2 separate regions of the Homo sapiens genome follow, and region 2 is linked to region 1. The links come from fine-mapping of genetic effects on gene expression. Tissue or cell type: cerebellar hemisphere. Region 1 holds a variant in brackets; the other region holds the start of a gene. All regions are shown on one strand. Distances are from middle to middle.

Region 1 (8,100 bases):
GATGCGTTTGTCTCAGGGTGAGTGGAGGAATGTCTCGGCCCGTCTTTGTCCCATAGCTGTGAAGGTGAGCTGGTCATTGACGTTGTCAGCGTCAGATTCCACAGAACTCATTTGAGAGCTAGTTTAGAGGGGACATGCGGATTCTGAAAGATCTGGGGGCCCACAAGGAATTCCCTTGTGATTAATCAGTGAGGAAAGCCACCTGGGGAGACGTATGGCCTTCTATCACTGCAGCTATCTCTTCAGAGAAGAAAAGAAGGACTCAGTTTCCAAGCTTCCCTTTTCCCTTGGCATAGTGAGTCTGGGGCCCTAAGATTGGATTTTCCTTTCACATGTCTGTCCCTTGAGCCCCGCACTCATCCCCCAGCATTCTGCAAACTTCCCCAGGCCAGACCCTACGGTAAGGACTTGGACCCAAGCAGGCAGTGTAGATGGTGATCCTGGGAAACACCCACGCGGGAGGAAAGGGACAGCAGCCAGGACAGGTGTGACAATGAGCAGGCTGCTGCTGAGGGCATACTGGGGAGGTGGGCAGGGCAGGCCTTAGGCTGTCCCCCTGGGGGCAGGTGGGCTGGAGGATGCATGGACCCGCTCTGGTCCATCCTTGGCTCCTGGGGGCATGGAGTCACCAAAACTCCTGGGCTGCCCCACACAGACCAAGCCCACTCTTGTTCCAAAAGAGGCCCTTGGGAGAAAGGGCCACAGTGGGCATGGGAATGATGGGTGCCAAGCAGATGTGGGCATGGTGGGGACAGGGTCTGCAGTGTGCTGAGTGCTTGGCCGTGGGGTTACAATGAGTCACACAGTCTCTGCTCTCAAGGAGCTCCCACTGGGCACAAGGGAAAAAAGGACAGGAGACACAGCCCCTGAGAGGCTCTCACGGCCTCCCGCAGCAGCATCGGTACCCACACGGCCTGGCCTGAAAGTCCGCCCGGCCTCTGGGCATGGGAGATGGGCAGAATTCCGTGCTGCTGGCCTGGGATCCTGTCACCAGCAGGAGACAGTAACAGTAACAAAACCACACCACAAACTGAGTCCACAGGTCTGTGCCTCCCACGCACCAAACCCTGTCTCTGGGGATGACAGTGAGTAGGAGGAGAAACGTGTTTCTCACATCGGGAGACAGAAACAGGAGGCAGGGCGCTGCTCTTTCATCTCTCAGGCGATGCATGTTCATCACACACAGAGTCCGGGGGGGCAGGAGCAGCTTCAAGTCTCTCTGAGCTGGGAGCTCACCTCTCACGGGTCACCCAACCTCTCTGGGTTCCAGATTCCCCATGGGGAAGACCCAGGCACATTAAGCTTCCAGACAGCCCAGAGTGGGAGGCAGCAGAGTGGAGTGGAGGAGGTGGCGCCCAGCCCACGCTCTGCATGGTCACCAGGCTCCTGAGCCAGACATGCCCCCACCGCCCCTACCGGGCAGCGGCCTCCAGCTGCATCACCGTGTGTCCAGAACACAGAACTCACAGGGGCCTCCGGAACCTCCTGCCAGGCCTGGTGTTAACAGACTCTCCTCCCAGGACCCCCCATATCCTGCGTGACAAAATAGATGACATCAGGAATCCCAAGATGGAGTGCCTAAGGGGTGCGAGGCCAGAGTACAGGTGCCCACTGGCCGAGCGCCTGCTCCCGAGGCTGACTCAGCTCTCTGGAGCTCACTTTGCTCTAGACCAGCCAGCGTGTCCACCCTGCTCTCCTCCCACTCCTCCTGGCTGAGAGATCTCCAAAAGCCTCACCCCCACCCGCAAGCCTGGCCAGCTTCTGCAGGGTGGGGGCACAGCTGGAGCCAAATAGGAGCCAGCCCTCCTCAAATGCCCTCCTGTCCCAGCTGAGACAAAGGAGCCTCCAGGGAGCTGCCCAGACCCTGAGCGCATCTCACCTCTCCCGTTGAGGAGGACCTGGTGTAGAAAGGAGTGCTGGGTGTTGGGGGGTACACCTTGGTCATTTTGGCCTTCCTCCCACCATGACCCCTCTTGCCCTCAAAGAGTGCTGGACAGAATCTTTCTCAGAGGGCCACCCCATCGGGAAGTCCCCTACGTATCTAACCTCCATCCATCATGCTGTAAGGCAGCCTCTTTCCTCTCCTTCTGCTGTTAGTTGAGATGGGCTGGAGCCGAGCTTGTGTCCAAATGAGAGCTGCTGTGGACCCAGTCATGGCTCCGTCAGTGCCCAGCGGGAGCCTTTAGTGAGAATATCAGTGACAGGGATGGCAGTTGTTTGCTGAATGCTTCCTGTGGGCCAGGCACGGCTAAGTGAAGGATCTCACTTACCATGTGATGATCAGCCTCTCATAGGTCAGGAGGAGGCCAAGGCAGTTAAACAACTTGGCCAAGACCCAGCCATGGGTGAGCACAGAGCTGAGATGCAGAGTGGCCCCTGCCCTGTGCCTGCAGGACACCCGCCACTCCTGGGAGGCCTCAGCATTGGGTGTCAGGAGGGACCCACCGAGTCCCCCCAAGAGCCCCTCGGCTGTGCTCCCCTCCCCCTCCACTTAGGCACTGGCCCCTCCAGCAGACCCCTCAGAAGCCCAGTGACATCGAGGGAGCACTGATTTGCAATGACAGATTGAGCAGCTGGAACCCTGCCCATCCATCCTCAGAACTGCCTTGTGCTCCCAGCAACCCCACAGCCAAATCGCAGAAAAAGAGGCTGCCCTCCAGCACAGCCAGCTCTCCAGGCTTGCACCTGGACGCGTGCCCACTCTGGGCCTCAGCCCCTCTGTCTGTGATGGAGGCCAGAGGCCCCTCCCACTCATAACAGGGCTGGCAGGTAAGGGGCAACATTGCCTTCCTGTGGAGTTGCACAGTCCCCAGAAGCAGGTGGTGATTTAAACACCCTGATTCGCCTGTAATCCCAGCACTTTGGGAGGCCGAGGCGGGTGGATCATGAGGTCAGGAGATCGAGACCATCCTGGCTAACAAGGTGAAACCCCGTCTCTACTAAAAATACAAAAAATTAGCCGGGCGCGGTGGCGGGCGCCTGTAGTCCCAGCTACTCGGGAGGCTGAGGCAGGAGAATGGCGTGAACCCGGGAAGCGGAGCTTGCAGTGAGCCGAGATTGCGCCACTGCAGTCCGCAGTCCGGCCTGGGCGACAGAGCGAGACTCCGTCTCAAAAAAAAAAAAAACACCCCGATTCACAACACAGGCCCTGTGGGGCACCAGGCAGTGGCAGGCACAGGTGGCCCCTGGAAGACATGAGTGCCCTGGAGAAGGAAGGCTGGGCCTGGGGCACCCTGGGCTGCCCTCTGCCCAAGCCACAGGCCCCAGAGACTCTTCCCACCCAAGCCAGAAGTGGTGAGTCCCATCTCTGGCAAGTCTCAGCCCTGCCAAAGGCAGGGTCTCTTTCACCAGGAACTCAGCGTTCTGCATCTTCGAGTGTCTATGTAAATAAAACAAACTTCTGTCTGTCTGCCCCCCACGCCCTGCCCCATCACAAGGCAGCCAGCGGGTCTTAGATCAGGGCTGCATCTGTGGTGTTCCCACTCAAAGCAGCCTGGGCGCTCTGTGGTGCCCACACTGCCCTCCTTGAGGACTTTGAAGGCACCTCGGAGGCAGTCCTTCTCAGAGTGGCTGAAACTCAGAAAGCATCACACCATTCATTCGGAGACCCCACGCATGAAGAGAGCTAGGGTAGGTTCAGCTACAAGCCCCAGATGGAAGGGCCCAGGGGCAGGGTCGAGCTGCATGAGCCACTCCTGGGGGCAGCCCTCCCAGGTGGCAGCAGCTGAGTGCATTGTTGGTGAG[A/G]CGCATGGCTTTTCTGAGAAGCACGGGTAAGTTGGTGAGCTGTGCTGGAGGGAACGAGGCCCGCCTTCCACGTGCTCCCCTTTCAGCTGGTGGCAGGAGGCTGGGCCCCGGTGACTCCCCAGGAGTGCCTCCAGCTCTGGGCTTCTGCAGCATTTCATTCCTCCCTCATGGGGCTTGTTGGAATCTGTGTGTCCACTGAATGGGGGTCATCATTTCAACCACAGCACCCAAGCACCTCCTCAGCAGGGAGCTGTCTTTGTGCAGGATGATGCTGGATACGCTGCTCTGCACTCAGCGGGAGAGGCAGGTGCTGCTGGGCGGGTGCTGCAGGGTGGCAGGTGCCGCTGGGCAGGTGCACAGGCCCCCTCCTCAGAGCCCGGCATGCTGGCCCTGCCAGAAGGATGCCAGGAAGCAAGAAGTGGGGGCACAGAAACGTGTGGCTGTGGACAGGCAGAGAGGAGTGCGAGGGCGTTCTAGGTGAGCAAAGGCTGGAAGCAGAAATGTGCTGGTGATGAGAGGCCCATGGACATGCCGGGGAGGAGGGCTGAGTGGAAAGGGCTTGGACACCAGGCTGGGAGGTAGAGGAAGGAGAAAAAAATGGGCCTGGATTGGCCTGAAGCTAGAGAGACTGGGAGAGGCAGAGAAAAGGAAGCAGCGATAGGGGCGAAGAGTAATGGAAATGGAGGCAGAAGAGAGACTCCGAGAGGAAAGACAGGAAGGGGCAACCGAAGAACAGGCAGAGAAGAAAATGCGGGTCCAGGGCAGGGAGGGGCGAGGAGGCCACTTGCACTTCTGCTGAGGGGTGCCTACTCTCCTCCCTGGCCACACTCGCACCTCCTGGAAACCCTCTAGGTCCCAGCCATGGCTCTTGATATCCCCTGAGCCCAGGACCAAGATACTATGCTGCAGCCTTCCCTCTCTAGGGCTGCCAAGTCGACAGCCTTCTCCAGGTCCTGGATAGTGGCTGGGGGTCCCTGGGAGGCAGGTCCGGCCTGGGGAGGGGGCGGTGCCGGGAGGCTGCTGTCTGTGCCACAGAGGTCACTAAGAGGCTCCCTGCTGTGTGACAGTGGCCCCAGATCATTGGAGTACAGTGCCGCAGGCCCTCCCAGCCTGACCTTCTGGGAGACCCCAGGGCGTGCCGGAGGTCTGGATAGTCTCCCTGTCCTGGGTCCAGGGCCAGGCCCGGGACTGAGAGCTCCGCACAGTGAGGCGCGCACCACTTGAGCCCAGCAGCCTGGGGAATGGACCTCGCCTCTCCCTCGAGCGCTGGGAGGGGCGGGTAAGGCCTAACAATGTGACCATCTGCTTCACCCCTTTCCACTCTCTGGCTCCTCCTCTGTAAACGAGCTCCACAACATTCCAGACCGCACGCCAAATCGGAAAACTCTGGACTCACAACCACGGGCTTAAATGCCTAATTAAGCTCATTCTTTGAACCAAGCCATATTTGAATGCATCTGTCAGCCCTCCTCCAGCTCGCCTCGCAGCGGGGTGGGACAGCGCTAACGGGAGTGGGAGAGGCAGCGCAGCCTGGCAGACAGGCCCCTGAGCCGTCCCCAGCCTTTCCTGGTCCCCGATCTGCCCTGGTGGGGCTGTTCGAACGCTTGGTCCCTGAGGTTTTACAGTCACCAGATTCATCTGTAGCCTTTGCTCCTGGGCCTGCAGTGAACCCCTCGGCTCCCCACCTCCCTGTCCCCGTCCCTGGAAGGCTTGGCGGGCACCTGCCTCGGCTTCAGACTCCTCTGGTGCAGCACCTGCCAAGCCCAGGCCCTGCCTTGCTGGGGAAGCTCCGTGTAGCTGAGGCCTGCGTCAGTTTCCTCTATCCCGGACCAGAGATGGATGCTCCCTCCCTTCTCAGCACCCTCCATTCAAACCATTTGTGGCAGCCGCGCCACACCAGAGGGTGCAGGTCGCAGCCCAGTGCTCTGAAGAGGGGGCCACGGGGAGCCAGGAGACCACAGGCGTGGGTTCTGAGCCCACGTCCGCTGCTGCCTCCCCGGGTCCCGGCATCAATTCCCCACCCGCTCACCTCCCTGAGCCTGCAACAAGAGGATGTGGATGAACAGTGTTCCACTGTGTGTGTATATTAATACCACGTTTTATCTATCCGCTCACCTCTTCATGGTCATTCTCGGCAGCAAGGATGTTTAGAGAATGTTATGCTAAGTGAAAAAAGCCAGGAACAGAAAGACAAATAGCTCATGATCTCACTCATGTGGGAGCTGAAAAAGTCGATCGCATAGAAGTAGCGAGTTGGGTGCTGTGGCTCATACCTGTAACCGCAGCACTTTGCGAGGTCGAGGTAGGAGGTCCCTTGAGCCCAGGATTTCGAGACCAGCCTGGGCAGCATAGTGGGACCCCGTCTCTACAAAAAGTTTTGTTTTTTTTTTTAATTTGCTGGTAGTGGTGGGATGCATGCCTGTAGTCACAGCTACTGGGGAGGCCAAGGCGGGACGATCGCTGGAGCCCGGGAGTTGGAGGCTGCAATGAGCCATGATCACACCACTGCACTCCAACCTGGGTGACCAAGAAAGACCTTGTCTCTAATGAAAAAAAAAAAAGAACAGGGTAGAATAGTGATGACCAGAAGCAGGGAAGGGTGGGAGGACAGCCAGAGATGGCTTAATGGCTATAGAACTACATCTAGACAGGAGGAATAAGTTCTAGTGTTCTATAACACTGTAAGATGACTATCATTAACACAATGTATTGTATATTTTCAAATAGCTGCAAGAACGAATTTTGAATGTTCCCAACCCAAAGAAATAATAAATGTTTGAGGTGATGGATATGCTAATTACCCTGATTTGATTATTACACATTTCTACATGTATTAAAATATCACTGTACCTAATGAATGTGTAGAATTATTATGGTCAACTAAAAATAATAATAAATGCAAAAAAAAAGGATGTGAGGAATAACTCCACTCACGGCCCTCCCTGGGGTGCACCTCCTCCGTGTACCTGACCACACATCAGGGGAAGGCACAGAGCTGGGACAGAAGCCCAGAGGTGTCCTGTCACCCCCCTGCTGCAGGCTGTCAGCCCCTCCTCATCACTTGCAGGGCCCAGACAAGGCAGCCCACCCGCCACAGGTGATGGGACCCCCAGCCACCCCTCCGGCCCCCCAACCCTGTGCCCCTCTCCCCAGCACCCCTCTGGTTCTGATGCGACAAGCCTTCTACAGGACCAGTGGCCACACTGCTCCCACCCTGGCCCTCACACTCTCTGCCTTCTCTTCCAGAAATGCTTGCCCCTTCCTCCTTGTTACCTGGCTCCCCCGATCCCTTAGGCCTCCCCTAATCCTCAACTGGCACCCCCAGCCCCTGTGTGGCCCCTTCCATCCTGGCACTTGTCTCTCCTGCTGACCTGGGAGCTCCAAAGCAGCAAGGACCTCAGCTGTCTCCCTCCCTGATCCTCAGGTTCCCAGCACCCAGGGCTGGGCCAGGCTTCAGCTGAGTGCTCTGCTGTTACCTGTAGAGTGAGTGGGTGGGTGGACTTTATAACCATGGCCCACCAGCCTTGACCTTTCATACAGTTTGACAGACCTCTTGCTGCCCCAGGCAGCCCCATGGCCCTGAAGGCAAGGGTACCCCTGTAGCACATCCCAGGGACAGAGCCAGACTCTACTACCTCCACCCCCTGCAACACCATTTTCTTTCCTGCCCTTCCCTGTTGCAAGCATATTCAAATGTTTAAATTCTGTTTGGGGAACAATTAGCCTGACATATGGTCTCATCACGTTTTGTCTTCCGATGGAAAAATCCAGGGGAAACTTGGAAAATGATGACTGGCGAGGCTTTAACGTGTTTTTGCTTTTTTTGATGGTCACAAGCAAGCCACAGATGAAAAGCCTGTTACCATCTGGTCCAACCCTCTCATCTGACTCAGGGGGAAACTGAGGCCCAGTGAGAAGAAGGTACCAGCCTAAGGTCTCCCAGATGCAAAATCCAGAGCCCTTGGCACTTGCCTCTCCGCCTCAATAACCTTCAGAGAGTTGGACCTAATCTTTGCAGTGGGGTGGTGGAAAGAGGGGCTTTTAGGGCCAACATGCTCGAGTTCTGTCCTCGAGATTGTGTGGCTGGAAGGCTTCATACCCCTGGACCATAAGAGGATGGCAGAATGGGGAGGACCTGCAGTTCCCTGTCTAGACCCCTCTTTGGTATCCCCATCAGGCAATGGCTTGGCCAACCAGGCCCCCGCTTCACTGCCCAGTGACGTCCAGACCTTGTTGCCATCCACCCTGCAGCTCCTAAGGATCCAGACGGCATCTGCCAAGAAGATACAGCAAGCCTGCCTGGAATCAGAACCCACTCCTGTGACTGCCAGAAAGAGCCCACTCCCTGCATCTTGC
Region 2 (8,100 bases), 120 kb after region 1:
GAGGCTGGGCACACAGTAGCCAGGCCCTGGCAGAAGCAAGCCCCCCGGGCACAGCCAACTGGGCAGGGCAGCCAACCCATGGCCCCATCAACCACATTACAAGAGGATCTGCCTCCAGGTCTCTGTGCACAGCGACCCCACAGGCATTTTATAGCTGTGGATGGAGGGAGGGGAAAACCGTGTTAGTTCCCATTGATGATTAATCAGGACTAGAAACAAAATGATCATGAAATACTCTCAAGTCCATAGCTTCACATAACCACGATTCACTGCAAACAGGTCATCTTTGTAGGAGCCCAAGAGATACCACAGTAGGTAGACCTGAATGGCTGTGTCCGCAGAGCTTAGTGTCCCTTTGGGAGAAGTGACACGCATGCTCCTCCCCAGCCACCTTCTTTAGAGTCTCCAACTGAGAGACCACATCCCACCAGGACTTAGTGAGAAGGAAATGGCTCCCCTGCAGGGAGTGGGGAGCCAGGCTTGGCAGAGACTGGCAGGGAAGGAACCCAGTGCCCTCTGACTGGCAGGAGCTGCAGTCTGGTCTTAGCTCACTAATCCTCCAACTAGCCAAAGGGCTAAGTCGAAGAGACAAAATCCCTGCCCTGCTCACAGAAAACCCACAGCAAAAGGGAGGCAAAGTGCTCCTAGCAGGGTTCCCTGTCCGAATATTTGCTAGGCTCTAACTATGGGCAGGCCCAGCTGGGAGTTAAAGACACAGAGAAAGCCAGTGTGGTGGCTCACTCCTATAATCCCAGTGCTTTGGGAGGCAGAGGCAGGAGGACTGTTTGAGGCCAGGAGTTTGAGACCAGCCTGCACAACACAGCAAGACCCCATCTCTACAAAAAATATTAAAAATAAAACATTAGCTGGGTATGGTGGCGCATGCCTGTAGTCCTAGCTACTTAGAAGGCTGAGACAGGAAGATGGCTTGAGCCCAGGGGTTCAAGACCAACCTGGGCAACACAGCAAGACCTCACCTCTACAAAAAATTTTAAACAAAATTAGCCAGGTATAGTGGTGCATGGCTGCAGTCCTAGCTACTTGGAAGGCTGAGGCAGAAGGATCGCTTGAGCCCAGGCATTCAAGACCAGCCTGGGCAACAGCAAGACCCCATCTCTACAAAAAACATTTTAAAAATTAGCTGGGTATGGTGGCGCATGCCTGTAGTCTCAGCTACTTAGAAGGCTGAGACACGAAGATGGCTTGAGCCCAGGGGTTCAAGACCAACCTGGGCAACAGAGCAAGAACTCACCTCTACAAAAATTTTAAGCACAAAATTAGCCAAGTGTGATGGTGCATGCCTGTAGTCCTAGCTACTTGGAAGGCTGAGGCAGAAGGATCGCTTGAGCCCAGGGGTTCAAGACCAGCCTAGGCAACATAGCAACACCCCATCTCTACAAAAAAAATATATATATATTAGCAAGGCATGGTGGGCTAATCCTCCTGGTGTCAGCATGATAACTCTGGAGGCTGAGGTGCTTGAGCTCAGGACGTTGAGGTGCAGTGAGCTAAGATCGTGCCACTGCACTCCAGCCTGGACAACAGAAAAAGACCGTGTCAAAAAAAAAAAAAAAAAAAACCATAGTGAAGGTGGGTCAGCTGCTCTCATCACAGTCTACAAGGCAGGGCAGAAAACAGATAGACCAAGCTGAACAGACAGGAAAGAGACTACAAGTCTAGCTCAGGCTGCTCCTTGCTCCCATCAGTCAAGGGTAGGGCCTTGCTCTCCACACCAACTCGAGGCATCAGGACCAGGGGCTCACCTGGAGGAGGGAAGAGCTTAGTGTTTTGGTTAAGATCCAGGACCCCAGAGTAAGACAGGCTTTGGGTTGATGCGTCACTCAGCCACTTACTAACTATGTGACCTTGGGCAAGTTCCGTAAGCTTCTGAGCTTCAACCATAAAATGGAGTGAAATCACCATGTCTACCCCTGGAGTTGTGATTGAGGTAAAATGAGCTCATTCATTCATTCCACAAGTATTTACTGAGCTCCTACTCTGTGCCCGACCCTGTTGTAGGCGCTAGAGATACATCAGTGAACAAGGCAGGCACAGTCTTAGAGACCTGCAACAAGACACTCAATAAATAAGGATGTGGTCCCATGTGTTGGAAGATGGCTGGCGAAATGGAAAAAATAAAGGAAGCAGAGTGAGGGCCTGGGAGTGCTGGGTGGTGGGAGGAGAGGCAGTGTAGACTGCAGTGTTAAATATGGTGGCCCAGGTGGGCCTCATGGAGAAGGTGACTGCTTGACAAAAACCAGAGCACAACGGAGTTAGCCAAGCAAGTATCTGTGGGAGAAGCATGTCAACCAGATGGTGCGGCTGGTGCAAGGGCCCTGGGGTAGAAGCATGCCCAGTGTGCTGCATTGTAGGAAGGAGAACAGTGTGGCTAGGGGAGTGTGAGCTATGGAGAAGACAGAAAAGATGAGAAGATGAAGGAAAAGGGTGAGCAGGAAGCAGAAAGGCAGATGGTTTGACCTTGGCAGCCACTGCAAGGCCACTGGTGTTTATGCCAAGTGAAATGGGAGCCACTGTGGGGTTTTTCAGCAGTGGAAGAGGGATCTGATTTCCCTGAGAAGGATCTCTTTGTCATGTTGAGAACTGATGCCTAGAAAGTGTCTAGTACATGGAAAGCATGTGAAAACATGTATCTGTCGCTCTTAGAGTAATACCAACTCATGCAGTGGGCAAGAAACACCCAACCCCACAAGGCGGTACAGGGATAAATTACTTCCAGATAATTCCCTCTAGCTACAGGGATTCTCCCACGGGCATCGCTGGTCTCCAGCATTAGCCTCTGCTTGGATCTGGCATCAGGAAAGGAGACTGCTACCTCTCCAGGTGGGCCACTGCGCAGTGGGCTAGCTCTTTCTTCAGAACCCTGCTTGGAATCAGTCCCCAAATGAGCCTGCTTTCCTGGAACCCCGCTGTGGTCCTGAATCTGCATAGAGCGGTGCAAGTCTGCCCTCTCCCTTCAGAAGCTGAGGACAGCAATGGGGCCTGGCAGGGTCTTACATTCGGGGGTCCAAAGTGGTTTCTAAGGGCACATGGGATTTCCTAGGAAAAGCTCCTGCCATGACAGAAGGAGCTGGCAACTGCCTCTGTGGAGCCCCTAGAGAGGAACTTGAGGGAAAGGAGGAAAGTCCTATAGGACCCCCTTCTTCCCTTTGCCCCCAGCAGGAGACCTTAGAAAACAAGGGCTTGATAGATGAGCCACAGTGAGCCAGGGGGTGGGAGTGACTCCTGGGCCATAGACGAGGAAACTGAAAGGCAGGCACTGGAGGCAAGAAGGGCTGGCCCCGGGCACCCGCTGGCGAGGACAGCCTTGGAGAGGGCCTGCAGCTCCTCCCCTCTGAGCTGTGCTGCGCTGGCCGCCTGGACCAGGGTGGCTGCTGGAGAGTGTTTTCCCTCTGGGTTTCCTTCTCCTTGGCTCCCAGGGAATCCTCTGGCGGTGCCTCCGGGAGGCTGGTAGCCGGGGAAGCAGGCACGTGAATCCACCGGGCTGCCCCACCCCAACCTGAGGTCAGAGCTGAGGCGTAGGGGCCGGGGTAGGGGCAGAGGTGCCGAAACGCACTAGCTGGGGACTCCCGGGGGAAGGAGATAGGAGAGACCCAAGGCGAGCCTTAGGACTCGCCCCTATGACTATGACTACGCGCTGCGTCCGAACCACATGTCCACCCCGCATTTGCCTTCGGGGACCAGACCGCGCTCCCTCAGATGGCTGGGGAGGGAGCAGACTCCGGGTGAAGGCTGGGGGAGGTACCGGGATGCCGAGTACGCCAGAGCAGGCGGGGGATGGGTTCCGGCTTCCTGCCGCCTCGGCATCTCGCTTTGCACCGGGCAAAGAAGGGGCCACGACCGGCGAAGAGCGCGTGGAGACACAGGGACCCGCGATCCAGGGGCAGGAACCCCGCCCCCTCCCGGAAACCTCCCGGGCCCTGAGTCGTGCCCGGCGCTCCCCACCCCACCCCACCCCCGCCGCCCCTGCCGTCACTCACGGCCGCTGCGGGCTGGCTAGCGTGTGCGCTCTCCGCGCCGCAGGCACCTGCTCGCTGGGCGCTGTGCGCTCACTTCTCCCTCGCGCACTGCAGACTCCCGGCGCTGCCGCCGCCACCCAGCGTAGTCTCCGGCTGGGCACAGCGTTCCGCCCTTCTCGCGGCCCCGGGCGCCCACCCATCCGTCATGGCCCAGGCCTGGGCCAAACAGCGGGGCAGCTGGTTGCCCAAACTGGGGTAAGGAGTTGAGGGCTGGGAGCTGCAGAGAGGACCGAGGGACACACGGGGAGCAGGGATGAGCGGCCGTCTCGAGCCGTGCAGACTGGGAAGAAGCCAGGGAGAGTTTGGGTGGGAGGACTCCCAACCCAAGCGGGTGCGGGGCGGGGCTGTACTCCAACCAGAAAGACGGTGGTCCCTCCGAGCGACCCCCGAGGAGAGAGGGGGAGCGCTCTGGGGCGGGGGCGGGGCGGGCTGTGGCAGGAGAGGGGAGGGCGGGGGCGATGCAGCGGTGGAGGCGGCTTGGCGCCCAGCCACTGACCGCCCCCTCCCTTCCCCTCCCCTCCCCCTCTCCCCGCCTCTCTCCGGCTCCGGGTCCGCCACGCCGGACCCGCTCTCCCCGCGCTGCGCTGGGTCGGACGCCAGGTCTGCGCGCCGCGGCTGAGCGCCCACTCGCCCTGCGGAAAGAGCCGCGGAGGAACCGGCGGGGGCGGCTGCGGGAGCCGAAGGAGGTGGCAATCGGGAGCAGAACCAGAAGGAGACAGGGAGGCAGAAGCTCGCGGCTCCGTGGCACGCACTCCCTCGGCCAGGGATGGGTCCCGGCGCGGCCCAGCCCCTGCCCGGCCCGCCGGGCAGAGACTGAACCGCGGATCCCCACCGTCCTGTGGACGACCGGACAGAGAGAGGCACTGACCGATCGCCAGCAGCCTCCCGGTGGGACCGCGTCTCCTGCACACCCCGCGCAGCGCCCCCCGCCGGAGCCGCACCGGGCAAGCCGGCGAGGGAGCGGGGCTGATTGGCGGCCGCCGGCGGCCAGGGGAGGGGGCGCCGCGCGGGGCCATGGCAGGCTCGGAGGCGTCCTAGCCCGAGCCGGAGCCGATCCGAGCCCACGCGGCCGCCGCCTCTCCGCTCCCGGGCCCCCGCCGCCACCGCGCCCCCCGCGGGAGATGGAACAGCGGAACCGGCTCGGTGCCCTCGGATACCTGCCGCCTCTGCTGCTGCATGCCCTGCTGCTCTTCGTGGCCGACGGTGAGCGCGGGAACTTTGCTGCCGCTGTGGACTCGGGGGGGTCTTTGCTGGGGCCGCCACCGAGAAGAAGAAGAAAGAGAACGAACCGGGAAGCTTCGCGGTCTCCAGCAATCCCGCTGTGCAGCCTGGGCCCGGAGGGGTAGGGAGAGGCGAGCGGCGAAGGGTCGCCGCAGCAGCAGCGCCGCGCCCGAGTCGTTCCCAGTCCCGCCGGGGCCCCGGCTGCGGAAAGGATGCCTGCGGGGAGCGGGAGTAGGCGCGCCCCAGCCAGGCTCTGGCGGTGCGGCCAGGGGCGGGGGAGAAGCACGAGTCGCCCCTGCCGCCCCGCCCCATCCGGAGGGAAGCAGTAGGCAGCCGATGGCCGGTCCCTGCCTCGGCCCTGCAGCCGCTTCCCCGAACTTTGCTAGCCCCTCCGGCCGTGCGCCAGGGAGCAGCTGCGGGGTGGGGGGCACAAGGCCAGCCAGCCAGAGACCGACTGCCTCGCTTTAGGTTGCCCCAGGCCCCCGACCTACAGCTGGTCACGCCTCTCTCTCTCTCCCCACCCCCAGCTGCATTCACAGAAGTCCCCAAAGATGTGACAGTACGGGAGGGAGACGACATCGAAATGCCCTGCGCGTTCCGGGCCAGCGGAGCCACCTCGTATTCGCTGGAGATTCAGTGGTGGTACCTCAAGGAGCCACCCCGGGAGCTGCTGCACGAGCTGGCGCTCAGCGTGCCGGGCGCCCGGAGCAAGGTAACCCGCCGCCCACGCGGTACCGGCGCGCGCCCGGCTCGCGCCCGGGGCGGCGAAGGCTAACCCAGGGAGGGAAGCAGCGGGCTTCACTCGCGCAGGGCGCCGCCCTGTGGCGCAGCCCATCTTCCACCTTCGCATCCCAAAGCATCTTCAAAGTCAGCAGTGGTTACCCCCAAACCTGTCAATTATTTTGACAGCATCGCTGTTCCCACCACCTCCCAGAACTCCATTCACGCCCAGCCCCTAAAGAGCCACACCTCAGCCTGGTCGCTTGCTCGTGCTCGCTGGCTGCGGCCCTCTGATGGGTGCTGGGTAGTGAAGGAAGCCCCCTTGGTCCCATCAGGCTCTCCCCGCCCTCTGCCACTTTGAGGACCCCAGGGCTCCCACGGCTGCGTTCCAGAGGCCACCAGAAAACCGAGTACCGGAAAGCCGGCAGGACCTCCAGCCCTCAGGGGCACAGAGGGGCCACTTCTCTGTGGCCGAAAACAGGCCCACGCTGCCTGTCTGCCTCAAAACCCACACTCTCTTACACACTCTAGTGTGCTCGCGTGCACACACACCTACACACACACCTACACCTACACACACCTACATTCTCCCAGGGTCCCACCCAGAGTTACTCCCACTGAGCCTCCCGCTGGGTGCTGTCCAGACACAGCGGCCCTCCCTCCAGTTCTTCACGGCTCCCAGTGAGCTGGGGGAGGATTTTGAGCCACGCGGCAGGGCCTAAGGATGCCCAGAGGGAAGGAGAGGGGCTTTCCTTCCCACCCTGGTGTCCATCCAGTCTCCCCAGTTCAGCCGGCAGGTGTGCACCAGGGCAGCCACCCGTTGGTCAGGCACCATGCTAGCTCCAAAGCCCGCTTCCTCCTGGGAAACTCTTGGAAAGCCGGACGTCCTTTGTGCCCTCAACCCCCATCCCCCGGGCGGTTTCGGTCCTAGCCTGCCGGAGGAGGGTGCCCTTGCCTAAAGGCGGATCCGAGTTCCCCTAGCCAGAAGGCCGCGAGCCTCACGTCTCTCTCTCCCTCTTTGCATTTTAGGTAACAAATAAGGATGCAACTAAAATCAGCGTAAGTGTGGAGCCCAGCGCGGGCCGCGGGAGACCCCTTCTGGCCGCCTCGGGTCCCGCAGCTCCCTCCCTTAGCAAGCCGCGGCGGCCGCGCATGTGGGGCCGCGCAAGTAGGGCAGCGATCGCAGCCTTGCATCGGTGGCTGCTCGGCGTGTCCGGGCGCCATCTGTCGCCGGTTGCAGGGTCGGGTTCTCTTTTGTGTAAATCAAGGGTCCAAGGCTTGAGTCCCCTAATTCGGCTCGGCGCTGACCTGTAAAACTCCCCTTGGTCGGACTGCGCGCTTAGGGCCTCTCGCGCCTGCCAGCCTCCGCTCTGCGGGCATTCCTCCTAGCACCGGGAGCGCGCGGCTGCTCGCCCTCGCCGCGACCGTGGCGCCAGCTTCCCGCCCCCTCTGCCCCGCCCTGAGCATCTGCTCTGCGCCCTCCGCTGCAACCCTTTATCCTCCGCCTGGATTGCGGGTCTGGGTGCGGGGTGTTGCAGGCTTGCAGGGGACGGGGTAGGGGGTGGTTGTGCCAGGCTGCGAGGGGCCCGGGTCATGGGGTTGCTAACTCTGGGAGGAGATGCGCCCAAGCTTCCCACCTGGAGCGTAGAAAGGCCTGGAGATGACGAAGCCTCCTCGTGGGCTCGGTTCAGAGGTGAGGGCTCCCTGGGTGTTTGTTGAGAGCCGTAGAGCAGTACTTCCCGAAGTCCCCACCGGGGCGCAGGGGAGGAGCACTTCGCTGGGGGGCTTCTGGAGATCCCGCGGAAAGGCGGGTTGGTAGCAGGTGGCCAGGGAGCCAGGCAGCAGCCTCAGCGTTGCTTGCCTTCTTAAGAAAGCACAGTGTTAGCTGTAAAGGGCGGGGTCCGGTGACAGGGTGGCTTTCCTTAGGAAGCGATTCGGGCAGGCCCTCCGTGCTCCGGGAGGTGAGGAGGGCCGGCTGGGGCGGGACTGTCGGTTGGAGCGCGTCGGGGCGGGAAAGACGTGGGGAAGTTAAGGAACAAGGAATCCAGCCTGGGGTTTCCTGAAGGTGCAGGAGGGAGGAAGGAGAGGTGGACTCTGCCCTTCTGAAGCGCCAGCTACGGGA

What was found. PIP is the estimated chance that this variant, and not a neighbour inherited with it, causes the effect.
Region 2: VSTM2B-DT starts here. The variant in region 1 is fine-mapped to the expression of VSTM2B-DT in cerebellar hemisphere (GTEx, PIP 0.98).

What each region holds. Positions count from the first base shown.
Region 1 is chr19:29,400,154-29,408,253 of GRCh38, forward strand. All of the region lies in intron 3 of VSTM2B-DT (VSTM2B divergent transcript), which reads right to left. Among named protein-coding and RNA genes, the nearest start is that of VSTM2B-DT, 120 kb to the right of the region's middle. RefSeq lists enhancers at 4,642-4,811, 4,695-5,321, 4,878-5,047. The variant A/G (reference allele first, on the strand shown) is at 3,745.
Region 2 is chr19:29,521,426-29,529,525 of GRCh38, forward strand. It overlaps VSTM2B-DT (VSTM2B divergent transcript), which reads right to left and starts at 4,325. Exons shown (of 10, transcript NR_040029.2): 1 at 3,999-4,325. VSTM2B (V-set and transmembrane domain containing 2B) reads left to right here and starts at 4,569. Exons shown (of 5, transcript NM_001146339.2): 1 at 4,569-5,240; 2 at 5,786-5,970; 3 at 7,008-7,037. The coding sequence starts at 5,159. LOC124904683 (a long non-coding RNA gene) reads right to left here and starts at 7,855. Exons shown (of 2, transcript XR_007067215.1): 1 at 7,616-7,855.